7 linked regions of the Homo sapiens genome follow. The protein of the gene in region 6 purifies or fractionates together with the protein of the main gene of each other region. This does not show direct contact. Each region holds a gene or a part of one and is shown on either strand. Other genes may lie near its edges.

Region 1 (3,500 bases), on a different chromosome or scaffold from region 6:
TGGTTTTGACTGATGGATTCTGAGCATACAAATTTATTTGCTGATTTTGTTTATTGCATTTAGTGCAATAATTTTAAAAAGGATTTGCTTTGGTTTCAGATACGGAAGATGGATGAGATTTTTGTTGAATGTTTGATTTGATGACACCCTGCGTAAGTAGTCATACACGTAGACATGGCGCATGGCTAGACAAAGGCTGCGAGCGGGGCTGGAGGAGGGAGCTCCTGGGGGAACTGCCTCACAGCGTTATGGGCTCCGTACAAGCTGCGAGTGCCTGGGGCACACTGGATGAGGCTGAGGAGATCATCTGGCTGTGACCTTCTAAACAGTCAATAAGCAAATACCACACGGTCCTGGGAAAGCGCACATCCAACATTTACAACTCTGATAAATGTACACTCTCAGTCACAAGTGACAGCATTTTACCATAACAAACCAGGCTTATCACTATGCTTAATAACTGGATATGCTTTAAAATGAGCACCAACAGTACCTTGCATTTATGCGGCATTTTTAAATTTACAAATTACTTTTGCTGTTTTTTAAATTGTTGTTGAAACATGGGTTGGGAAGGGCACAAGGGACACCTTTAAGACCTTTAGACACTTATCCAAAGTAAAAAACAGAAGAAGGAAATAGTGGAAAATAAGGCTGGAGTTAGAAAGCTGATGACTTCAGCATGCATCAGAATCACTGGAAGCTTCTTAAGACAATTCTAAGGTTTCAGGAGGACTGGAGTGGGGCCACGCTATTTATACTTCTAACAATGCCCCGGGTGAAGCTGATGCTGCTGATCCAGGGATGACTGGTTACCCAGTGCTAAACATTTAGAGAATTATGCAGGGAGGAACAGGGGAATGCCCCAAATCAGTATACTAGCGATCTTAAATGAGGGAAATTCTACATTATTTGAACAACTTGCTGAAAATTCTGAATGATGGCCTTCATTCATTCGCTTTAGTCAGGAGGGCTGGTTTAATAAAAGTAGAAGCACAAGTTTGTTTTTATAAATTATAAATTTTATTAAATTATTTATGGTTTTGTAGCTATCTTACATATAGCTATTCGTAACATATTTTTACCCCCTTGTACTTCACAAAATTGCAATTTGGCTTGAATGCATTTGTCAATGGAGCCTAATTTCTTGGATACTTTAAACCAAGGCATTTTGATTCCGCTGGCACTGTCTGTATCTTACTTGGAAGTGTGTACAGGAAGAGAGAAACAATTCAGAAAAGATTCTGTCTGTAATGTACCATCCTCTCCATATGATCCCCTGCATTGCTTTACCTTGGTGATGTGTGTGGTTGTCGTTGTTGACACGGACTCAGATGTGATGGTTTGTGCGGTCAGTAACGTGCCCGAATCACCACCAGCCCCGCCATCAATCTTTGGATAGTTGGGGGAAAAATACAAAGTAATGCTTAACTTCTGTTATGTTGTCAGAGAAGATCCCCGCCCCATCGAATATGCATCTTTTAAAATCCATGTGGTTTGCGTGTTTGCAGTAGTAATTACCATCCAGGAGAGCGGCTGGTATTTGAAACCGAGTAGAGGCAAAAGGCTAGGTGCACATGGAGAAGCAAACTCAACTGTGTGAGTGGAGAAAAGAGAGGAGAATGGACATAGTAGGTGGGACTGAAAGCTACAAGGGAATTATGACAGAATTTGTCTGAAGGACTTTTGCACAAGCTAGAAAATGAAACTAGAGAGCCAGGCAGAGAAGTTTCCACAGTGACCAGAAGCGCTGAGTTTGTTGTTTTTTAAGCACAGGTGGGTAAAAATAGATAAACATTTTATCAAATTACCAAGCAACAGAACCTGACCAGGACAAACTGAATCTGCATGATTTGGTTATCTGCTTACCTCTAGCGATTGTTTTCATCAACTACATTGTTCCTGTAATAGTTTGCATGTTGTGAGCATATATACGGGCACATATATTTCAATACTGCACATACGCATGTGCTCCTACATATATATAAATCCCATACATATGTTAAAATAGATTTTAACTTGTTTGCTTTGATATTGAAAGATGCAGAAGATTCTAGAGTTTCCAAGGGGAATCAATGAAGCAAATTAATAGCCTAACAGTTTATGTTAAGATCACGAAACATATTTGCCCTCTGTTTCCTGACACTGACACGAGGAAATAACTGGACGGTCCAGAGCCTTTCTGACTGTAAGAGGAAATCTCTTTCAAACTTGGGTCATGCACCTGTATGTCTTCATTCTGGCAACTTATCACAGCACAGACACATCACTAATGCTCCCCCGCCAAGCTGTTCATAAGAAACCTATTTGTGCTTATGTGGGATCAAGGCACACACAAGGATGCCATATCCAAAATAATTTTCAGATGTGTTTCACACATGCATGCATTAAACCTTTTAAAAAATATTCTGAGAGGTCAATAACCTGACATCCTCCACCATGATACAATTCTACCACAGAAGGTTCATCTTCTAAGTGGAGAAAATATTTATTTTATATTCTATTTTGAAATCATGAATGCTTTATCTTTTTTTGTTATTCTTAAGGTTAAACATCTTAATGCTTATTCCAAATCTTTACAGAACCAATGTGTGAAAACCTAAAATCAAACACACAAATCTGATAATTATTTAGACACATGGTATCACCATTCACATATGAATGACTACATAGGTCTTTAGAAAATAATTCCACACGAAGGAGAAGCACAGGTGTGTGTGCCTGTGTGTGTTTGTGTGTGTGTGTGTGTGTATGTGTGTTATTACAAGCAAGAATGAGTTGATTGGGTCAATCTTCACGGAGTTAGAGAGGGAAAGAAGCCTAAATCACATCCACAATTAGATCGGATTATTATTAATCGATGAATTATATCAGATAAACTTTGCAAGACAATTTGTTTCCTAAGTGTACACAAACATTCTTAGATATGTCAACTCAGAAATGGCTTTCAATCATATGAACAAGATTGATACTGTCTGTCCTAAATAATCATATGTACAGTTCCCCTATAATTACTGGGTTACCAATTTAATTGCAGCTCTCTGTCTCAATCTAAGAGAACATAGCAAATTATGTTGTTGAAGTACACTTACAAAGTGCAGATACAAAAAGCTACATCAAAGCCAGAAACATGTAAACTAAGAGAAGAAAGAATGAAAACATAGATACACTAAGGGAAAAAAGAGCTCGAACAGTCCAAGTCTAGAGCTTTTGTACCTGTGGAGACTCATATGTGATGGTTTTGGTCTCAGTTTGGACAATGGGGACTTCCTTGGTGGAGATTTCTGTCCTTTGTGAGGCATCAGAAATTGTTACCATCTCTGTTTTTACCACTGGTGGCTGAGGTGGAAAAGGAAGGGAAAAATAAATTCTAGAGGTAATAAAGTAAAAGTGTTTAATGGAACCTTCACAAATAATAGTAAGAAACATATCCAAACACACACTCATGCACAAAAGAAAAGAGTAAAAGCAAACAACCTAAAACAAACAAAAGAAATAAAAGA
Region 2 (3,500 bases), on a different chromosome or scaffold from region 6:
ACAGTGAGCTGTAACGGCACCACTGCAATAAATAATTTATTTAGTTAAAATATTAAACTACCTTCAGGCTATTTAAGATGAATATGAAACATGAATGAATTTCATGTTTAGACTGGGTCCCATCCCCAAGATATCTCTCTCTCTGTCTCTCTCTCTATATATATATATTGCAAAATCTGAATCACTTCCTGTCCCAAGCATTTCAGATAAGGGATATTCAACCTGTATTACTTCTCCCCGCAATGTTCTCTGCAGTTTACCTGTTTCTCCCACACACTTAAATACTATGTACAACATATTAATATATGCTATATCTTTAAAGTTGCTGATTAATGTTATTTCTAACATACCTTTTTTGGAACTGTTTTGATTCTTCTTGGTGGTGCTGCTATCTGCTTTCTTAACATTGGCACTTTTCACAGATTTTTTACTTTTAGAAGTAGCTTTCTGTTTAGGTTTTTCTCTTTTGGCTGTCTTTTTTGGTGGCTGTTACAAAAGAAAGTAAAAGTACACATATTGATGAGATTCAATGCTATCCCATCCCATCCCTCTACTTCCCCTATGCCCCTTAATAATATTAGAGAAAACCAATATATTTGGTATCAGCAATTAAAAATTCTTTTTGAGAGATGACTAATATACAACAATTTTATCCCAACACAAGTCTAAGCATGACAAATCACAATCACACACACACAAGAGTTGCCCATATTTATTCAACACTATGGATAAACTACATATGCATTACTCTACTTAATCTTGGGGGGGACCCCTAAATATAGATAATATTATCTTCTCTTATTTATGTTCTCTCTCTTTCAACTGGAATCTTTTTTTTTTTTTTTTTTTTTTTTGAGACAGAGTCTTGCTGCGTCACCCTGGCTGGAGTGCAGTGGCCCGATCTTGGTTCACTGCAACCTCTGCCCTCCCGGGTTCAAGCGAATTCTCCTGTCTCTGCCTCCCTAGTAGCTGGGATTACAGGTGCTCGCCACCACACCCGGCTAATTTTTGTATTTTTAGTAGAGATGAGGTTTTGCCATGTTGGCCAGGCTGGTCTTGAACTCCTGACCTCAGATGATCTGCCTGCCTTGGCCTCCCAAAGTGCTGGGATTACAGGCATGAGCCACCACACCTGGCCTAGAATCTTGTGTTCACTGATGTTTCCCTAACTCCTAAAATAGTCTCTGGTATACAGTAGTTGCTCAATAAATACTTATGACTATATGAGGAAACTAAGGCTCAGTGTGGTTACCTTGTCCACAGTCACATTAATAAACATGCAAGATTCAAATATAGATGTGACTCCAGAACTTGTGTTCTTAAACACTAACCCATAGGTGATTAGACACAAACAAAATACATAAATATGGATAGATTAAAATGACAGGCCAGGCATGGTGGCTCATGCCTGTAATTCCAGCACTTTGGGAGGTCAAGGCGGGCGGATCATGAGATCAAGAGACTGAGACCATCCTGGTCAACATGGTGAAACACTGTCTCTCCTAAAAATACAAAAATTAGCTGGGTGTGGTGGTGGGCACCTGTAGTCTCAGCTACTCAGGAGGCTGAGGCAAGAGAATTGCTTGAACCCTGGAGATGGAGGTTGCAGTGAGTGGAGATCATGACACTGCACTCCAGGAGAGAGACTGTCTCAAAAAAAAAAAAAAAAAGACAAAATCAGAGTTCATACTTTGTCTCATGTGGAGCCTGTGAAATTAGAAAGCATTAATTCTTAGTTTAATTAATGTTCCCAAAGGAAAAGCTTCCTATTAAACATTCCAAGATATTTTAAATTCTCCCATTTACACACTAAAACTACTGCGATCACTTGACAGAACGTTTCTCCAAATGTTTAACACTCTTGATTCCTGAGAGTTATCCTAAAGCAACCTGGTTTTTTTTTTTGAGATGGAGTCTCGCTCTTGTTGCCCAGGCAGGAGCAGGAGTGCAATGGCATGATCTCGGCTCACCGCAACCTCTGCCTCCCGGGTTCAAGTGATTCTCCTGCCTCAGCCTCTTGAGTAGCTGGGATTACAGGCATGCGCCACCACACCCGGCTACTTTTGTATTTTTAGTAGAGACGGGGTTTCTCCATGTTGGCCAGGCTGGTCAGGAACTCCCGACCTCAGGTGATCCACTCACTTTGGTCTCTCAAAGTGCTGGGATTACAGCCGTGAGCCACTGTGCCCGGCCAAGTCAACCTGTTTTTAAAGACATAAGCACTGTGTTGAACCTATCCTTTAGATTAAAGTATACACATCAATCTGTTCCAAAAGTGGCCTCAAGCTATTCATTGGATTTTAGTGTCTTTTTTTTTTTTTTTTTTTTTTTAAAAAAAAGAGATGGTCTCGCTATGTTACCCATGCTAGACTCAAACAATCCTCCCACCTCAGGCTCCTGAGTAGTTGGGACTACAGGCACACACCACCTCACCTGGCTGGATTTTAGTGTTTGTCTTTCTTTTTGCTAATATACCATCACTGTACCTATTTATACAAGCCTATCATCACCCTGCACTACCTCAACAATATACCACTGGCTGGGAAGCATGTAGTTTAACTGCTACTAAAAAATACATTTTTAAGGTGTCAAGGGGCTGACATGCTTCTAAAAGTAAGTACATGAATTTCCCATGGACTTTTGCGATTTACAGGCCATTTTAACTTACTTCCTAATCCTAAGAGATGTTCTAGATGGTGTGGGGCTATGGGACAAGTATCAATGATTTGTCGTTTTTTTATGACGAACTTAAACTAAGTTTTAAGGTTCATTAAGTGTCCACCCAGTTCATGTGAACTATATATTAGGCTCTGAAAGGGAATCCTAAAAATTCTTAAGTTCTTTAGCACACTTAATACACAGAATACAATAATCATGATTATATATCATTTTTTAGTTAAACGGTAATAAAATCTGGACTTGCAGGTACAAGAAAGTAAGTTATTACTGAAAGGGTTGAAGGTTGAGCAAAAGAAACAATATCATCAATAATTACTCAATCTCCATTCAAATTAGAAAATCAGAATTAGATAACTAAAATACTTCCAAAGCCTTTTAAGGCTTGCCATTAAAATTTTAGATGTGATACACAACATGACATCATTTTAAAACCTGCAAATTGTGAGTAGTGACAGTTTGTCAAAGCATAAACATTTATAATAATAAATAACAAGCCATCTCCATAAAATCTTACTTCTGTATAACAAAACCACATCTTTCTACATTTCATATCTGCTGTAAAGGATAATGTTCTACAGTTTTTCTAAACGGACAACCAGGCCTGTCATCTATTAAAATTTCTAAAAGACTGCAAATATACTGCACAAGCACTAAAGAAAAATATACGACATAATAGTTCAAAGAGTACAGGCTCTAGCAGCAAGCTGCCTGGTTTCAAATTCCAGCCCCAGTACATCTCTGGGCCCTTGTCTCATTTACAAAACAAAAGAAACAATAGTTCCTATGGTTTTATGGGGAGTAGATACATTAACAGATGAAAA
Region 3 (3,413 bases), on a different chromosome or scaffold from region 6:
AAAAAATTAGCCAGGCATGGTGGTGCATACTTGTAGTCCCAGCTACTTGGAAGGCTGAGGCAGGAGGATCACTCGAGCCTAGGAGTTCAAGGCTGCAGTGAGCCATGATGTCGACACTGCATTCCAGACTGGGGGAAAGAGGATAGAATTTAACTGACTGATACCAAGAGATGTTCACAACATATTATTAAATGAAAAAATTCAAATTACAAAGCTATGGGCAGTATGATCCCATTGTTTTAAGAAAAAAAAAAACAAGATATGCATTCAAATACATCCATCAAAGGCAAAATATTATGTGGTTATCTGGGGGTGTTCTTCTCTGTGTTCCTATTTCCAAATATGTACTAATTATAAAAAGAAAAAAAAAGATTCCACATCTTAACCTTTGTCAAAAAAACGGCACAGTGGATTACAAGTGGTCATCTTTATCAGATAAGATTACTTCAAAAAGTCTGTTCTGGATAGAAGCAAAAAGCAAACAAGGCTGAAAAATGGCCTGGGAGTGTTACGGCAATTTATTTACAGACTATTGAATACGGCCTTAAAAAAATGGTAAAAAACAAATGGCTTATATTAATACATTAGATGTTAACAGTTACAAGACTTAACTTTTAAACGTTCTTGCAAGAGAGTACAACACTTTTAAACAAATTAACTGGGAAAAAACTTAGAAGAGTGATTCTGTATTCACTATAGAGCCTCATTTGAATACAATTAGAAAATTCATTTTTAATTGCACATTTGACAGGCTGAAATGAGTTAAGACCTGCAGACTCTGTTAGTCCATAAAATTAAAAGGATAAGTTCTTCCCTTTACAATAAAAATTTTCTATTTTCCCTGTCTTCAAATGGATCCCATGACAGCTTATTATTAATAGCTTTTATTTTTAAGTAGAAACATTTAAGAAATTATCTGGAGAAGCCTTTGGTAAATGGCAAACTATTGCTCCCCTTAAAAAACCACTTGAAATTACAAAACCCTGAAAGTATTTTTTTGTTGTTTTTTTTTTTAAAGTTCCAAATCAATAGGTTTTATTGCATAAAACCTTGAAAGAACTTAAAAGCAAATTATGTTTGCAAGCCTACTGATAACCAATCTTCTTTCAACAAATGAAAAATACATACAGGACTTGCCTTTTCAAAGATTATCCATATATGAAACAAACAGCCCCTTCAGGCTCCTAAATTTTGAAGATGTTTTTATTTTTCTATTTTTTCTAAATAAAAATTGTTTTTTAAGCAGACTTTTTAAAGCCACTTGTGTTAAACCATTAGTCCAATAGTCTAATTATTTTACCGTATCACTGGTCAAGTTATCTTGAAGCAATTTCCCTATTAAAAAGTTAAGTATTTACTGCAGAATTTAGGTATGGCTTAGAGGAACAAGCACAGGCAATCCAGCTGCCAAAGTTTCTGGCAATCCCTCTTTCTAAGCCTTATTTTTCTTAGTTGTAAAGTAAGAAGACCGACTGGATAATTTTAGGTTACTGGGACATCTCGTTCAGACTTTTAAAACATCAAAAGGCAGACTGGGCCAAAAAAAAAAAAAAAATTGAAAGGATATTATATCCCAGGGAATTAGCTATCTATATTCAAAACATATATTTCAGCTTTGTTTTTTTTACCTATGTCCTACAAGAAGGATTCACCTTTTTGGAAAAGAAAGCAAGTCCCCTTCCCCTAAAAAAAGAAAAAATAAAAATAAAAAAGGAAAACAAAAAGCCCTAGGATGAAAAATCATCCCAAATTGGATTAAGCTCAAAGAGCAAAACCTTAACTCAGAAGTACCAGATTTTAAGCATTTATGTATTCACTTTTCATTTTTCTCAAGAAGTCTTGATATTTCTTACAAATAGGCCATTGCAAACTGACCAGATTCAACTTAAAATTTTATCACTTTTAAGTGATATCAAACAGCTATTCCAGTTGTTTGATTTCTCTCCATAACCATCTCTATCCAAATTTCAATTTAAAATTTCAAAAAGATACTCAAATTTTCATGCCCTACATTCACTTAAGTGCAATTTAGATACAGCTGAGGGTAGCAAATACCACTAACTTCTCCAGACATTTAAAAAAATCTTGCTCACTGTCAGCACACTGAAAGTATGATTTAACACTGTTGACGGTTATTGATGTACCCCAAGGACTAGATTACTACCTGGCATGTTGTAGGCACTGACTATGTATTTGCTGACAGAATAAAGCTCTGAATCACAGCTAGAATTATTACCTTATTTCACATTCCACAAATGACAACTCCTTAAAATTGGCATTTTAAGGTTTCACAAATGACTTGCAACTCTCCAACAAATAATGAAGACGTAGGAAACATACTGAGTTGCATGCAGAAAAACCTGCTGTGTCAGTAAATACAAAAGGGAATTTCACGTGGGAGAAGATAAATACTTTCTTCTTTTGGCAGGTCAAATCTTTTATATTTTTGTCTTCTTAACTTGCAGTCTGACTTACCTGCTTTTTTCCAAAAAATTTAAGCAATATTTTGTGTTCTTTAGATTTCACTCAAATTTTCAGCGATGACTGCTGTTATAACCTACAGAACTAGTGATTTCCCAACTTTGTTCTATTAATCCAAATTCACTGAATTAAAATATTAAATGCTATGAAGGGAAGCATTAAAATTTTTTACTATCATATTTCATCAATTATAAGACATATTTTCATATAATATGTCTGAATCTGGGATGCAGCTTACAATTGATGACGTCTTAGCATTGTATTGTGGCTTAATTGGCAACATTTTTTCTTCTAAGTGACATATAAAAGACTAGTATGTCTCACAGTAGTGCTGTGTAAGGATAATATTAGAAGTTCTAGTTCAAATTTTCAATGTCAAAGCAACAATTTCCCTGTCCTCCCAGCCACTCTCCCAACATAAATATATAACTGAAATGTTTGATTAGAAAAACTATCCAAACACAGTTCAATTTTATATAAAATATTTAATTTTTAAAACACAGGCTATTCATGTCACATAAATATCTTCAACTGTAGGTTAGCTGCTTATGGTCAGCAGAATTATCAAGTGTGACTATTAAGAATAACTTAGATACTGTCACTTATAGGAAAGTCTAAAGCTCTAAGACTCACCATATTAAAATTTCAGATACTTGAATACTGTTGCTATTTTGCTAATTTCAAAATATTTCTTCATTTCCTGCAATGTAGTTTATAAGTTGTTAGTAATCAATATTCAAATAAAAGCAACATATTTTTTTCTTCCATTCATTTCTTTCTCCCAACAAAAAGAGTCCATCAAAAAATAAAATGGTCAACTGATATCAACTTATTTTATAGTAGTAAAATGGTAAATTATCCTCTTTAAAATAATTTTACTCTTATCAAACTACAGGACTTCCCACATACTGTTTTGAAATGAAGGTTCATAA
Region 4 (3,500 bases), on a different chromosome or scaffold from region 6:
GGGAGGTGTTTCTTGATGCTTTCTTTTTCAATTGAAAGTTAATTTTGTTTTATCATTTTTAGGATATGCTCTCTGCTCAAAGAAATCATGCTATTAGGATTAAAAAACTTCCCAAGGGCACGGTTTCATTTCATTCCCATTCAGATCACCGTTTTCTGGGCACGGTAGAAAAAGAAGCCACTTTTTCCAATCCTAAAACCACTAGCCCAAATAAAGGCAAAGAGAAGGTAGGTTTTGCATAATCCAAATGATTTTTGTAGCTGTTTATTTCTCTTCTGCTTTAACAGCACATAGTAATAGAGTACATATAATCAGCGGAAGTTTGTCTCTTTCAGAATTTCTGTCATATTAACAGTGAACTAAACAAAGTAAGGTTTCTTAACCTTGGGATTATTGACATTTTGGGATGAATGATTCTTTACTGTGGGGGATGGGATGTTTAGCAGCATTTCTGGCCTCTACCCACTGGAAGTTAGTATTCTGACCCCTTTTCCCTGCCTCCCATTGTGACAGCCAAAAATGTGTCCAGACATTGCCAAATGTCCCCTGGGAGGCAAACTCATTCCAAGTAGAGAACTAGTTATATAAAATGATAGTACTGTCTTCCAGGCAATTTAAAACTTTCAAAGTTGGGTGTATCCTCAGTTCACACATTTAAATTTCATTTATTGAAAAATCCACTAAATAGGAAATAGAAAGATGTCTGAGATGAATTCTCCTTTCAAGTTAATAACAAATTGAGAGTTTTATAGAAACAAGTAATTCATATAGAATATAAAATATTGCTATTGAAGGTCAGCGATAGTGCTCTGGTGAAAATTAACTGGTAGGGTATGTGATGGTTTTACTAACAGATGGAGACAGGAAAGAGCATTCTTCACAGAGTAAAAGTATAGATGAGAAAAATTCAGGGTTTCTTTAGGAAGCAATGAGTAACTAGTCCGACAGGAATTTTTTTTTTTTTTTTTTTGGTTTTGTGTGTGGGTTTTTGTTGGTGAGGGAGGTTAGGAGAAATAAGGATGAAAAATCAGGATCCAGCTAGACTGGGAGGGTGTTGATTGCTGCTCTAAAGAATTTAGACCTTATTGTCAGGTGCGGTGGCTCACACCTGTAAACCCAGCACTTTGGGAGGCTGAGGCGGGCGGATCACGAGGTCAGGAGATTGAGACCATCCTGGCTAACATGGTGAAACCCCATCTCTACTAAAAATACAAAAAAATTAGCCGGGCATAGTAGTGGGCACCTGTAATCCCAGCTACTCGGGAGGCTGAGGCAGGAGAATGGCGTGAACCCAGGAGGCAGAGCTTTTAGTGAGCTGAGATGGCGCCATTGCACTCCATCCTGGGCGACTGAGTGAGACTCCGTCTCCAAAAAAAAAATTTAGACCTTGTTCTGTACTTCAAGGAAAAGATTTCTTTTGGATAATGACATCAGGTATGTGCTTTGGGAGAGTAATGGCAGCAATATGAAGCCTAGATGGGATGGAGAAAGACAAAAGATGAAAAGGATTACTATGAAATTACTTGGATAGTTAAGGTAGTCCTTGAACTAGGCACACAGATAGTGACTATAGACAAGTGAAGGTACATGAGAGATACTGGAAAGTCATGTTATAATTTAATAATTGCTATTAGCCAGAAAGAGCAAGGCTAGTATCTTGCTTATCACTTACTGTAGCTTGGGAAATTATTTCACCTCTGAGCTTCAGTTTTTAAATTTCAAAAATGATTGTGTAATAGTTTAAAAAGCCCTCGAAGTACCTAGCTCATAATAGGAATTTCGCATGTGACAGATGATACTGTTAACAAAAATAAAAATACACTTCAGTTGGGCTTATTTTTAATAACTTTTAATTCTTGGAATGCTCTGCTTCCCAAATGTGTCTGGCAAAACTGGCTTGATGAAGAGAGCCTTTGTGTGAGACTTTCCCTGCCATTTTTTGTTTTTTTTTCTTTCTTAGTCCAACAGTACCCTAGTAAATCCTCTGTCATCATGCTTCTTACAGTATATAACATTTACCTGTTAATGAATCTGTCTCTGCTGCACTGGACTCCCTCAGGGCAGGGATTCTCCTATCTCTATTTAATATATTTGATGTATAGTATATTGTCAGCTGTTGATGTTGAAGTTGGTGAGTTAAGAGCAAAAGGTGAACAGTAAGCTTTTGAGTTTGGTTGTGGAAAAGTTGATGACATTGGAGTCAGACCTGAGTTCACTGACATTGTTCTTAACCAAACTCAAATCCTCTGGATTATTTTGCGCTGGGTTTTGTAACCTTGGTAAGGTTTACTTAATTCCTCAGATTTCCCCAATTTGTAAAATGAGGGAAAAGAGAAACTATGGAGATGATTTTGTACAAGATTAATTTGATAATACATAATACCTGGTAATGTTGTAAGTGTTCAATAAATTATTATATAGCAGTTATGGAAGGAATGTGATTGGTAGAAGAGGAAAATGAATTGGTTTTGAATATATCGTAGTTTGTAATGAGGACTGGAGTTTAGGAAGGAAGTCAGGGCTAGAGTAGGGACATGGGCATTATCTTCATAGAAATGTTGAAACCATAAAATCAGTATAATTTATGTAGTTGCTGTACACTGTCATTACTTAACGGTGTGATTCAATACGACACACCTGAACTTTCTTAGACTTTTATTTTTTTAGTCAAGTGCAGTAGTGAGAAGGGGGGAAAGAGGAGAACAAGGAAGTTCGATCTGTAACTGACTGAACAATCGAGATAACCCACTACCTTCAGACCAGCCCTTAGATTTTTTAAGAGTTAATCATTCTTACACGTACGATGACTGAAATGTTGTTTCTCCTTGAAGTCTGGTATTAAAAAAAATTGTTGAAATACTAGTATGTCATAATTTTTAATCATCTACTTTATGTCAAGTACTTGAACTGTGCTAGATCATACACCAAATTATCCTGCATTGTTAAGTATATTGATTGACATTATATATTAAATACTGTGCAAGGTGCTGTGTGCTACTAAAAGAGGATACTTCAGCAGCTTCTTTAGGAAATACTAAAGCTTCTTGCCCTTATAGAATTTCCACTTCCTTGGAAGTAACATGCCCAGTTTAATTTCTGATTGGCTATGAGGAGCGCAGGTGTATTAAACATTTTCAGTAAGCTTTTTTCTCCTCAATAGCAAAAATTAGATTCTTAAGATTGAAAGACCAATTAAAAATTACAGCAGACTGAGCTAGGCTTAAGGCAAGACTACCTTTTATTCATATGAATAATCTTTTAGAAAATGCTGGAATAAGACATTTTTACAGCTGTACCAATCCTTTGGCACAAGAATATGTAAGAACTATAGTTGTTTTTATTGGTTTTTGTTCTTGAGATTGTTTTCATTCTGTTTTTGACTGTATCTCTTTAGGAGGCTGAGGATGGCATTATTGCTTATGATGACTGTGGGGTGAAACTGACTATTGCTTTTCAAGCCAAGGATGTGGAAGGATCTACTTCTCCTCAAATAGGAGATA
Region 5 (3,500 bases), on a different chromosome or scaffold from region 6:
CCAGGTAGCATTCATTTTAAGTACCTGCTGAAATAAGATTATTTTAATATTAGATTTATAAATGCCAACATCTTCTGTCTATAGTCACATTAACTGGGAATACAATTAAACAGCGCTTTTATATTTCTAGTTTCCATATTATAAGGAGCAAAAGCCACTTAATTATAAAAGAATTTTAACTACATTAAAACTTGTCATTGCTATAAAACAACATAAACCAGGGCTAAGATAAACTTTTGCAGACAGAAGACAAAGTGTCTCCAATGCTCTTTGCCCTCCCCCTTTCCTCCCTTCTGGACATATGAAGTCCCACCCTGATTCTCACCTGCCTGTCAGCTGAAGCTCAGGCTTTATTAGTTAAGGAGTAGTCTCTCCCTTGGGTGGGTATGCACATCCCCTATATCCCACTCCCTGGCCTAGGAACAGAAGTCCCAAACAAAATGCAATTAATTATAGTACTTACTTCCGGCTTTCTACATGCTTGGCAGTTGACTGCAGGGATGGGAACTGTGTATCACTGTAGATTTCTGGTGGTCCTTGTGGTGTTTTCCTTGTTGTGGTTAACCTGGCCCCAGGAGGCCTATACACACCACTAGTCATCGCTGGTTCTGGGGTTTCTGTAACTAATATTTTATAACAATTTTTAGATAAACTATTTAAATGCTCAGCATTTTAATAAGCTATTCTTGCATTCCCAATCATTTAACAATTATAGAAAAAACAATACCAGGGTCTCTGGGTCAGACCACAGAAGGGAATTCATTTCAGAAAATGTCTGAAAGTGAAAACAGGCTGGGCGTGGTGGCTCACGCCTGTAATCCCAGCACTTTGGGAGGCCGAGGTGGGTGGATCACCTGGGGTCAGGAGTTCAAGACCAGCTGGGCCAACATGATGAAACCCTGTCTCTACTAAAAATACAAAACTTAGCTGGGCATGATGGCAGGCACCTGTAATCCCAGCTACTCAGGGGGCTGAGGCAGGAGAATGGCTTGAACCTAGGAGGCAGAGGTTGCAGTGAGCCGATATTGAGCCACTGCACTCCAGCCTGGGCAACAGAAGGAGACTCCGGCTCTCAAAAAAGAAAAAAGAAAAGTGAAAACATTGTATTTTTCTAGGGTAGTATTCTAACTCCTCCTCCACGTACAACTTTAGTAATCTACGTAAATGATGAGTTCCACAAGCCAAATTACTGGAAGTAGAAAAGGAATCTGCTGGGCTTGGATGACTGGTCTCATCAGGGACTGCCTCTCAGAATAGGACTTTAGTCCTGTTTCCCTACCAGTAAATATGAATTACTTCTTTACCTGATTGGTGGACTGATTAAGATGCCATATGTAAAGAATTTTTTAATGAAATGCCAGTGTGGTTATTTTTTAAGATTCTAGCCAGGGCTGGGTGCAGTGGCTCAAGCCTGTAATCCTAGCACTTCGGGAAGCCCGAGGCAGGCAGATCACCTGAGGTCAGCAGTTCAAAACCAGCCTGGCCAAAATGGTGAAACCCCGTCTCTACTAAAAATACAAAGATGTAGCGGGGCATGGTGGTGCACGCCTGTAATCCCAGCTACTTGGGAGGCTGAGGCAGGAGAATAGCTTGAACCCGGGAGGCGGAGGTTGCAGTGACCCAAGATTGTGCCACTGCACTCCAGCCTGGGCAAGAGAGTGAGACTTTGTCTTAAAAAAAAAAAAGAAAAAGAAAAAAAGATTCTAGCCAGGCACAATGGCTCACGCCTGTAATCCCAGCACTTTGGGAGGCCGAGGCGGGCAGATCACTTGAAGTCAGGAGCCAGACTCTGTCTCAAACAAAACAAACAAAACAAAAAGATTCTAAAGATGATTTAAAAACATAAGACCGGGTGTGGTGACTCACACCTGCAATCCCAGCACTTTGGGAAGCTAAGGTGGGAGGATTGCTTGAACCCAGGAGTTGAAGACTAGCCTGGGCAACATAGTTAAGATCTCATCTCTACAATAAAATAAACAGGTGGCATGCCCCGGTAGTCTACTTGGAAGGCTGGGGTGGGAGGATCACTTGAGCCCAAGCAGTTGAGGGGCTGCAATGAGCCATGATTGCATGACTGCTCTCCAGCCTGGGCCAGAGTGAAACCCTGTCTCTAAAAAATATAAAAATAAAAATTTAACATAGAGTAGTTATCTGTGATTTCTGCATAACAAGATTTGGAGTGATATGTTATTCTTTATAACATTCTAAATAAAATAATGAGTATACACTTCTTTAAAGTAGTGCTCTTAAACTTTCATTATTGCCCTAAGGAGACCTTTCAGACATCTGTTTCCTAACTGCCCCCCACTCCATGAAATTTTAATACTGCGATATACTATACATCTGTTTATGCATTCTAGTCTTTTCGTGGGCCACAAATGACTGTTAAGGTATAAGATTCCTTCATTCCATAAGAAGCAACTTTTACCACCTTGAGAATGATAAAATTGGCCCTGCTGAGAATTCATGCTTCAAAGAACAGGAAAGTTAAATAGGGAATGAAAAAGACAAAGCACAAGTGAAAGACAAGGGCCCCTTGTCTTTCTGTCTTTACTCAGCTGTCAAAAATATTTTAAATGATAAAAGCTTTAGGAATTTTCTCTCTCATGAAAACTTTTGGAGTTAAACCCAACCCTAGGGTAGTTACCACTAAAAATCCTAAATGAAGCTGACCTTGGATTCTAGTAAATTAAAGTCTTTTCCTTACCTTTTCCTCCATTAGCAAGTAGTTAATATTTAACGAGAATATTAGAAGAAATGCTCAATTCCAATAAATGAAACTGGAATCGACTAGTCTATATCTATATAAATTTTACAGCAACATACAGGACAAAAGCATGTCTTTTAACTTCCAGATTCCTTTTATTTAGGATTTTAAAGTCTTTAACAAGATATATACACATCCCACTCTACCAGGAATGGAAAGGAGCCTCTCCTCCTCACCCTACCACAATCATGCACTTAGTTGAAAGTGGACCATATATAAAATCATATATAAATTAGACATCTTTCTGAAACTGAAATAGTAAAATTACCAATTACTGGAGCAGGAGGTGCTTGTACTGGAGCTGTTTTATTCCAGGGACCTGAAGATTTTTCCATACCTCCACCACCACCTCCACCTTCTTCCCAGTTATCACCTGGATCTTGTCTCTTTTCATTATCGTCTTCTTCCTTTTCACTGCTGGAAAAGCAAAGATGTAAATTCATTAAGGAATCACCAAGAAAATTTTCAGTCCAAATCGTTAGTTTTATCCATGATTATCTGTACGACCCTGAAGAAGTCAATCTCTTTCGAGACTGAACGTCTTATTTAAAAAGTGAGGCCAGGTACAGTGGCTCACACCTGTAATCCCAGGACTTTGGGAGGCCAAGATGGGTGCACCACCTGAGGTCAGGTGTTCAAGACCAGGCTGGGCAACATGGCGAAACCCATCTGTACTAAAAATACAAAAATGAGCCAGGCATGGGGGCACACACCTACAATGCCAGCTACTGGG
Region 6 (3,764 bases):
CTCTTACTATTCTCTCTAATTTTTTTATTTTATTATTTTTTAAAAGAGGTCTCAGCCAAGACAATTTTAAATTTTTATGGATTTAGGAGTACAAGTGCAGTTTTGTTGCATGGATACATTGCGTAGTGGTAAAGCATATTGCATAGCATCCTCATCATCAGAATAGTGAACATTGTACCCAATAGGTAGGATTTCATCCCTCATCCCCCACCCATCTGCCCACCTTTTGGAGCCTCCGGTGTCTATTACTCCACTCTGTATGTCCATTGCTAAGCCCCCAACTATACTCATTTTATTTTATTTTAAAACTTGTTTTCTTTTTCTGCATACTTCAATGGATGCAAACTCTTTTCATTTTTTCTTTTCCTTTCACAGACAGTGACTTCATTTTTTTTTTTTTTTTTTGCTGCTAACTCCCAAGCACAACACAGTGACTTATGTTTTTAATTTTTTTAAGAGGCAAAGCCTACCTCTGAAGCTCCTTTTTTTTTTCTTTTCCTACTTCAATAAGCTGGTCTACATTCTTACTCTTCTCTATGCAACCACTTTCTTCTAGATTAACAGTGCTAGTACAGATGATTTGATTTATACATTGATTTCAGCATTTTCTTTTCATGTACTCAGGTGAGGAAAATCACTCTTTTATATCCAATGACTTTACAAAAAATCATTTACAAAGAAGTGACTGCATATGATAAAATATTTGTGCCAAAATAAATTCATGGCTTTTAAAATGTCATAGAAATGTCTATTCAGGTATCTTTTTTTTTTTTTTTCACATTCACTGTAATCCTTGTTTGATGTCAATGTCACGTCACCACCCCAAGCGGGGGGCACAAGCACGAGGAAAGGAAACCTTCCCCGTGAGGGGAGGGGTGGGGAGGCACGCTTCCCTCCCCCAGCGCAGCTGCTGGCTCTGTCTTTGCCGGAACACTCCAGCCCCAATGCTCTTCTCTTTGCTGCTGAGTGAAGTCCTCCCCATGGCCCACGGCCTCCCTGCCTCAGCCCTTTGGATCTGCTCCTCAGACTTTACCCCTTAGTTATGCCCTGATTCTAGGACCCAGCCTGGACTCCACATCCCTTGGTCCCAGGCTGGCCCCAGGTCTTCCACGTAGTCCCTCTCCACCAAGTCCCCAAGTCACCCTTGACTCTGAGAGGTATCCCTCTCCCACACCAGTTCTTTTCCAGTCACTTCTCCTCCCATGTTTGTCTTCAGTCTTTGCCTTTATTTATCCCTGTCCCTCCCAACCCCCGGGCTCCCAAGTTCTATCTCACTCCTCCACCCTCCCTGTCCTCTCACAGCTGAGGTTCTGGGCTGTAATGATGGCAATGCTGCCCAGCACAACCCCTGCCGCCACGATGTCAGAAGGTGCCACAGTCTCATGGAGCATATAATACTGCAGTATAAGGGCCACAACCACCTCGGAATGTAGGACAGCGCACACCAGGGCAGGGTGGGCCTTGGTGACCGCATAGCCCACACATGTGAAGGAGACCAAGGCGAGGATCCCCACTGCCCCCACACAACTCCAACTCAGGAGGTCACTGGGCAACACGGGGGCCTGCAGCACAAAGAGGCCTGGCACAGAGCCCAGCAGCCCCACCAAGCCAGATAGGAAGGCCACTGTTGGGAGGCAGGGGGGAAAGTGCAGAGAACGATAGACCAGAAGCCTCAGGGACAGCGCCAGGCCTCCCAGGAAAGCCTCCACATAGCCCAGGGCGGTGTAGACACCCGTGGTCCCCTCCTGTAGTGTCCAGAGTCCAGGTCCCACAATGATGATTAGTCCTAGGATGCAGCCCAACAGTCCACACCAGTCGTAGCCACTGAGACCCTGGCTCTCAAGGCAGAGAGTGAGGACGGCGGAGCAGACGGTGGAAGAACCTTTGCGAACAGTGGCAGCGTTGCCAGCGGGCACCACCTGAACCGCACTGTAGGCACATCCAATGCTGAGGATGTTGAGCAGGGCACAGAAGAAGGCCCGGCTTCGGATGTCAGGAGTTCCCAGAAGGGGGTCGCCACGCAGTTTAAGTAGCAGGGCAATAGGGAGGTGGAAGAGGCATCGCCAGATGAGCAGCTCCAGCGAGGGCAGGTTGGAAGCCTGGTAAGCCATACGAGAAAGGGGGCCCACGAAGCCAGCAGGCAGGCCCCCACCCAGCAGGGCCACCAGCAGGCCACTGGTGGCATCAGAGGGCTGGCAGCGCTGGTACCAGCGGAGGCTGGGTGGAGCGGAGGGCGGCGATGGGTGTGTGGAGTCAGGCTGGTTGAAATAGGGGTGACTGCCAGCCATCTTTCCTTGGACTTTCTCCTCTCCTCCTGGCTCAGGGAGCCTGGGCCCCTCAGAGCTCCAGCCATTGTGACCTCATTGGAGTGGGGGTGGGATTCTTCCCTGGAACTCTCCTGAGGTGGTAGCACGCCTATTTTCCCACTGAGTCCAACTCTGCTTCTTTTCTTTCTTTTTTTGTTTTTTGTTTTTTTTTATTGATCATTCTTGGGTGTTTCTCGCAGAGGGGGATTTGGCAGGGTCATAGGACAATAGTGGAGGGAAGGTCAGCAGATAAACAAGTGAACAAAGGTCTCTGGTTTTCCTAGGCAGAGGACCCTGCGGCCTTCTGCAGTGTTTGTGTCCCTGGGTACTTGAGATTAGGGAGTGGTGATGACTCTTAACGAGCATGCTGCCTTCAAGCATCTGTTTAACAAAGCACATCTTGCACCGCCCTTAATCCATTTAACCCTGAGTGGACACAGCACATGCCCCAGAGAGCACAGGGCTGGGGGCAAGGTCACAGATCAACAGCATCCCAAGGCAGAAGAACCCTTCCCAGTACAGAACAAAATGAAGTCTCCCATGTCTACTTCTTTCTACACAGACACAGCAACAATCTGATTTCTCTATCTTTTCCCCACCTTTCCCCCTTTTCTATTCCACAAAACCACCACCGTCATCATGGCCCGTTCTCAATGAGCTGTTGGGTACACCTCCCAGACGGGGTGGTGGCCGGGCAGAGGGGCTCCTCACTTCCCAGAAGGGGCGGCCGGGCAGCGGTGCCCCCCACCTCCCGGACGGGGCAGCGGCCGGGCGGGGGCTGACCCCCCACCTCCCTCCCAGACGGGGCAGCTTGCCCGGCGGGGGCTGCCCCCCACCTCCCTCCTGGACGGGGCGGCTGCCGGGCAGAGAAGCTCCTCACTTCCCAGACGGGGCGGCTGCCGGGTGGAGGGGCTCCTCACTTCTCAGACGGGGCGGCTGCCGGGCGGAGGGGCTCCTCACTTCTCAGATGGGGCAGCTGCGGGGCGGAGGGGCTCCTCACTTCTCAGATGGGGCGGCCGGGCAGAGACGCTCCTCACCTCCCAGATGGGGTCGCGGCCAGGCAGAGGCGCTCCCCACATCTCAGACGATGGGCCCCCGGGCAGAGACGCTCCTCACTTCCTAGACGGGATGGCGGCCGGGAAGAGGCGCTCCTCACTTCCTAGATGGGATGGCGGCCGGGAAGAGGCGCTCCTCACTTCCCAGACTGGGCAGCCGGGCAGAGGGGCTCCTCACATCCCAGACAATGGGCGGCCAGGCGGAGACGCTCCTCACTTCCCAGGCGGGGTGGCGGCTGGGCAGAGGCTGCAATCTCGGCACTTTGGGAGGCCAAGGCAGGCGGCTGGGAGGTGGAGGTTGTAGCTAGCCGAGATCACGCCACTGCTCTCCAGCCTGGGCAACATTGAGCACTGAGTGAATGAGACTCCGTCTGCAATCCCGGCACCTCGGGAGGCCGAGGTT
Region 7 (3,500 bases), on a different chromosome or scaffold from region 6:
AGTATTATTTTATATCTAAACTCTAAATATCTAAAATGTTGATGTATTATCTCAAGAAAGGTATAAAAACACAAGCAAAATGAATTTCTTAAGGGCTTGAACTCCGAAATTTCTTTCATTCAACTAAATAACATAAAATCCAATGTGATTACGTATTATTTTATGACAAAGTTTTTTATATACTGTACTCACTGGAAGAACTAATACAAAATAGTTGGGGTGCACAAATTGTTCCAAGCAATAACATCCTAAAACACACCACAATAAGAGTCTACGATTCTATTTTCCTCTTACGTATTTTCTCTGTTTTGTTTTGTTTTCTCTTTATCTTTCTGCAGGCTATTGCAACCACCCCTTTCTGTTCTTTATCCAGCATCTGCTGTGCTGCTTCTCATTAAGACGTATCTACGTGTCCATCTTTTGGTTTAGGCTCACGCTATCTTTCTCCGCACCCCAAGACTTATGTACAATTGTGTCATATTCATGCACAACTTCATTTTAGTCTCTATTTGACTTGATTTCTTTAGTGGATTTGGGCTTTTTGGCCAATAAGATAAATACCTGCAAGGGACATCACATAAAATTCGATCATAGAAGAGGATCTCTTTCCTGCCGTCCACATCTATCTGGAGCCTGGGTATGCTGGAGGCATCATGGTTGACCACCATGATGCAGGGGCTGCTCAGCCTCTTGGCTTGATGGACGAGCAGGTAGCAGCGCTTGTTGTCCACATCATTCGCAATAACAAATCCCTCTGAAGGCACAGAATTGCAGTGTCAGGTGAAATGGAGCCTAAGTGGAATCACATCCTGAAATATGCGACCTCCAAAGGTCAGCCAGTGAGAAGCAGCAATCCACCAAACTTAAGACCCACAGTCAAGGTTTTCCAGAATTACGTTAAGTGGTTCAAAAAAAGGAACCAGGTGGCTCTGGATGGATTTTATGGACACTCGAATTTTGAAAGCCTCAAAAGTCATCTATTCAACAATTATTCACTTTGTGCCAATTACCATGCCAAAAATGTCTTTTCTGTTATTAGTAACGATTAACTACAAAAAAAAAAGATGAGGAGAAAGGTGTAGAAACAACAAAATCACCTTACAAATGTTTCAAAATCCTGAACACAAGCCGGGACCCTGCTCTGACTGTGAGTCAGGCTCCTAGGGTGGGGCCCCAAGCACCTGAACACGGAAGCTCTTCCCGGGAGGCTCTGCAGGCTGGGAAGTCTACTGGGTGTACCTCTGCTCATCTCTGGTTCTTCTCACACCCCCAGCAAAAAGGCAAATATACCAACAACATGTATGATCAAAGCCACTCTTCACAACAGTATGAAATGCAAAACATCCACAATACAAAAAGGAGAACCTGCTGCTACTGGGACGCCAAGGCTCTTTACTGCCAATGTGGAGAAAACAACTAAAAACAGGGAAAAGTGAAGCAGGCTTTTTAGCCAAGGCATTATCTTTAAACAATGTAAAAAAGAGGATTTCAAAAAACAGACCTAACAAATATGCCTATTAAAACAGAACTAGAGAAGTTTGCCTGAACAAAGATAGGACGAGATGAAAGCTGACTCTAAAACATCACGATGGGTATTTGTTTCCACTTAAGAGAAAGGGGCGTGGTGTCACTATAACAGCTAACATTTCCTGAGCACCTCGCAAGCTACATACTGATTCGTCCCATTTCACATGGGATGTCTAACACTGTAAGTAACTTGCCGATTAGGATTTGAACCCAGGGAGTCTGATGGTAGCTTTTAACTACACACTACTACCCTTCATGTAAGGCAGTAAGTAATAATAATAATAATAATAGTAATAATAATGAACAAAGGTGGGGGAAAGGGGAAATTGTTACTAAAAATTCAAACAGTGAAATCTATCTTCTGTAAGTAGGCTTGATAAAGAAACACCATCTGCAGCCGGGCGTGGTGGCTCACACCTGTAATCCCAGCACTTTGGGAGGCCAAGGCGGGCGGATCACGAGGTCAGGAGATCGAGACCATCCTGGCTAACATGGTGAAACCCCGTCTCTACTAAAAATACAAAAAATTACCCGGGCATGGTGGCGGGCACCTGTAGTCCCAGCTACTCGAGAGGCTGAGGCAGGAGAATGGCGTGAACCCAGGAGGTGGAACTTGCAGTGAGCCAACATCACGCCACTGCACTCCAGCCTGGGCAACAGAGTGAGACTCCATCTCAAAAAAAAAAAAAAGAAATGCCATTCGTTTTTATAGAAAACACACATAATTCTAAAATAAAGCTCCCCCATGGTATGAGTGTGTTTGTTTGAGTACTACTGACGGTGGTAGGCAAGATGTCCAGTTCTACTTCCGGTAGACGGAAAACCCAACTGCTTGTCATAGGAGACTTTAGAGCCAAATTAGCAGGCAAAGTTAGAGTCTTTTCCTTGTCTACAATCTGCCAAAGTGGCATTCCTACCATTTTGAACACAAGTCCAATGCATACCTGGAAAGGGGACATTCATGTCGGCATGTAGCATTTCAATTAACTGTGTGGTCTTTGAGCCAGGTGCTGCACACATATCTAAGATCTATTAACAAAGCAAGAAACTGTTTCATGTTTTTAAAAAACCAAATATTCTACATTTAATTTAAAGCAATTCTAGTTTTTCAATTTCTAGTCCAAGATCTAAATATACTTCTTTACAGAGTCTATAGCATGACATAATTTACTTTTAGGGATTCTACACTGCCCCAAAATCACAGAATGATATAGGTACAGTCTCCAAAGAGGATGGGAGGAGAATGAAACTGTAAGCCAGAGAGACTAAATATAGAGATGAACAAGTAAGAATCATGAAAACATAATGCTAAGGAACAGAGCTACCTAGACTCAAATCTCAGCTCAGCCAGTTAACAGCTCCGTAACCTCAGTTCAAGTACTTCTCCTTGCTTCCTTTTCCTCATCTGGAAAAATGGAGATGGTGACAGTATCTGCCCTTAGAGGGTTGTGTGAATGATAAAGCCAACTAATTCACCTAAAAAACACAGAGCAAGGCCAGGCACAGTGGCTCACACCTGTAATCCCAGCACTTTGGAAGGCCAAGGCAGGCGGATCGCCTGAGGTCGGGAGTTCGAGACCAGCCTGACCAACATGGAGAAACCCCGTCTCTACTAAAAATACAAAATTAGCAGGGTGTGGTGGTGCGCACCTGTAATCCCGGCTACTTGGGAGACTGAGGCAGGAGAATTGCCTGAACTCAGGAGGCGGAGGTTGCAGTGAGCCAAGATCGCGCCACTGCACTCCAGCCTGGACAACAAGAGTGAAACTCCATCTCAAAAAAAAAAAAAAGAAAAGAAAAAAGAGCACAGAGTAATGCTTGCCATACAATGAGCTCTCAATACATGTTCACTATCATTTTCAACCTAATTTAGCCAATCACCATCACTGAAGACAATCCATATGGTAAACAAATCAGTAAAACTAAAGGGGAGAAAATTTTCTAAACCATAAAAATTAAGTAGGACAAAAAAG

What was found.
Region 1: the proteins of SLC35G3 (region 6) and EPB41L2 purify together in Homo sapiens (affinity purification with mass spectrometry; one large-scale study listed by BioGRID and IntAct). This does not show direct contact.
Region 2: the proteins of SLC35G3 (region 6) and DEK purify together in Homo sapiens (affinity purification with mass spectrometry; one large-scale study listed by BioGRID and IntAct). This does not show direct contact.
Region 3: the proteins of SLC35G3 (region 6) and CDK13 purify together in Homo sapiens (affinity purification with mass spectrometry; one large-scale study listed by BioGRID and IntAct). This does not show direct contact.
Region 4: the proteins of SLC35G3 (region 6) and CSDE1 purify together in Homo sapiens (affinity purification with mass spectrometry; one large-scale study listed by BioGRID and IntAct). This does not show direct contact.
Region 5: the proteins of SLC35G3 (region 6) and CDV3 purify together in Homo sapiens (affinity purification with mass spectrometry; one large-scale study listed by BioGRID and IntAct). This does not show direct contact.
Region 7: the proteins of SLC35G3 (region 6) and NSUN2 purify together in Homo sapiens (affinity purification with mass spectrometry; one large-scale study listed by BioGRID and IntAct). This does not show direct contact.

The regions. Positions count from the first base shown.
Region 1 is NC_000006.12:130,864,246-130,867,745, forward strand, and holds part of EPB41L2 (band 4.1-like protein 2), read right to left. Parts: intron 3,337-3,500; coding exon 3,214-3,336; intron 1,390-3,213; coding exon 1,291-1,389; intron 1-1,290. UniProt on the Homo sapiens protein: Required for dynein-dynactin complex and NUMA1 recruitment at the mitotic cell cortex during anaphase.
Region 2 is NC_000006.12:18,237,031-18,240,530, forward strand, and holds part of DEK (protein DEK), read right to left. Parts: intron 487-3,500; coding exon 351-486; intron 1-350. UniProt on the Homo sapiens protein: Involved in chromatin organization.
Region 3 is NC_000007.14:40,096,668-40,100,080, reverse strand, and holds the end of CDK13 (cyclin-dependent kinase 13), read right to left. Parts: 3' UTR 501-3,413; downstream 1-500. UniProt on the Homo sapiens protein: Cyclin-dependent kinase which displays CTD kinase activity and is required for RNA splicing.
Region 4 is NC_000001.11:114,726,985-114,730,484, reverse strand, and holds part of CSDE1 (cold shock domain-containing protein E1), read left to right. Parts: intron 1-62; coding exon 63-227; intron 228-2,664; exon of another isoform or gene 2,665-2,765; intron 2,766-3,394; coding exon 3,395-3,500. UniProt on the Homo sapiens protein: RNA-binding protein involved in translationally coupled mRNA turnover.
Region 5 is NC_000003.12:133,583,686-133,587,185, reverse strand, and holds part of CDV3 (protein CDV3 homolog), read right to left. Parts: intron 3,185-3,500; coding exon 3,036-3,184; intron 624-3,035; coding exon 464-623; intron 28-463; coding exon of another isoform or gene 12-27; exon of another isoform or gene 1-11.
Region 6 is NC_000017.11:35,192,020-35,195,783, forward strand, and holds SLC35G3 (solute carrier family 35 member G3), read right to left. Parts: upstream 2,375-3,764; 5' UTR 2,289-2,374; coding exon 1,272-2,288; 3' UTR 501-1,271; downstream 1-500.
Region 7 is NC_000005.10:6,619,545-6,623,044, forward strand, and holds part of NSUN2 (RNA cytosine C(5)-methyltransferase NSUN2), read right to left. Parts: intron 2,557-3,500; coding exon 2,472-2,556; intron 755-2,471; coding exon 562-754; intron 1-561. UniProt on the Homo sapiens protein: RNA cytosine C(5)-methyltransferase that methylates cytosine to 5-methylcytosine (m5C) in various RNAs, such as tRNAs, mRNAs and some long non-coding RNAs (lncRNAs).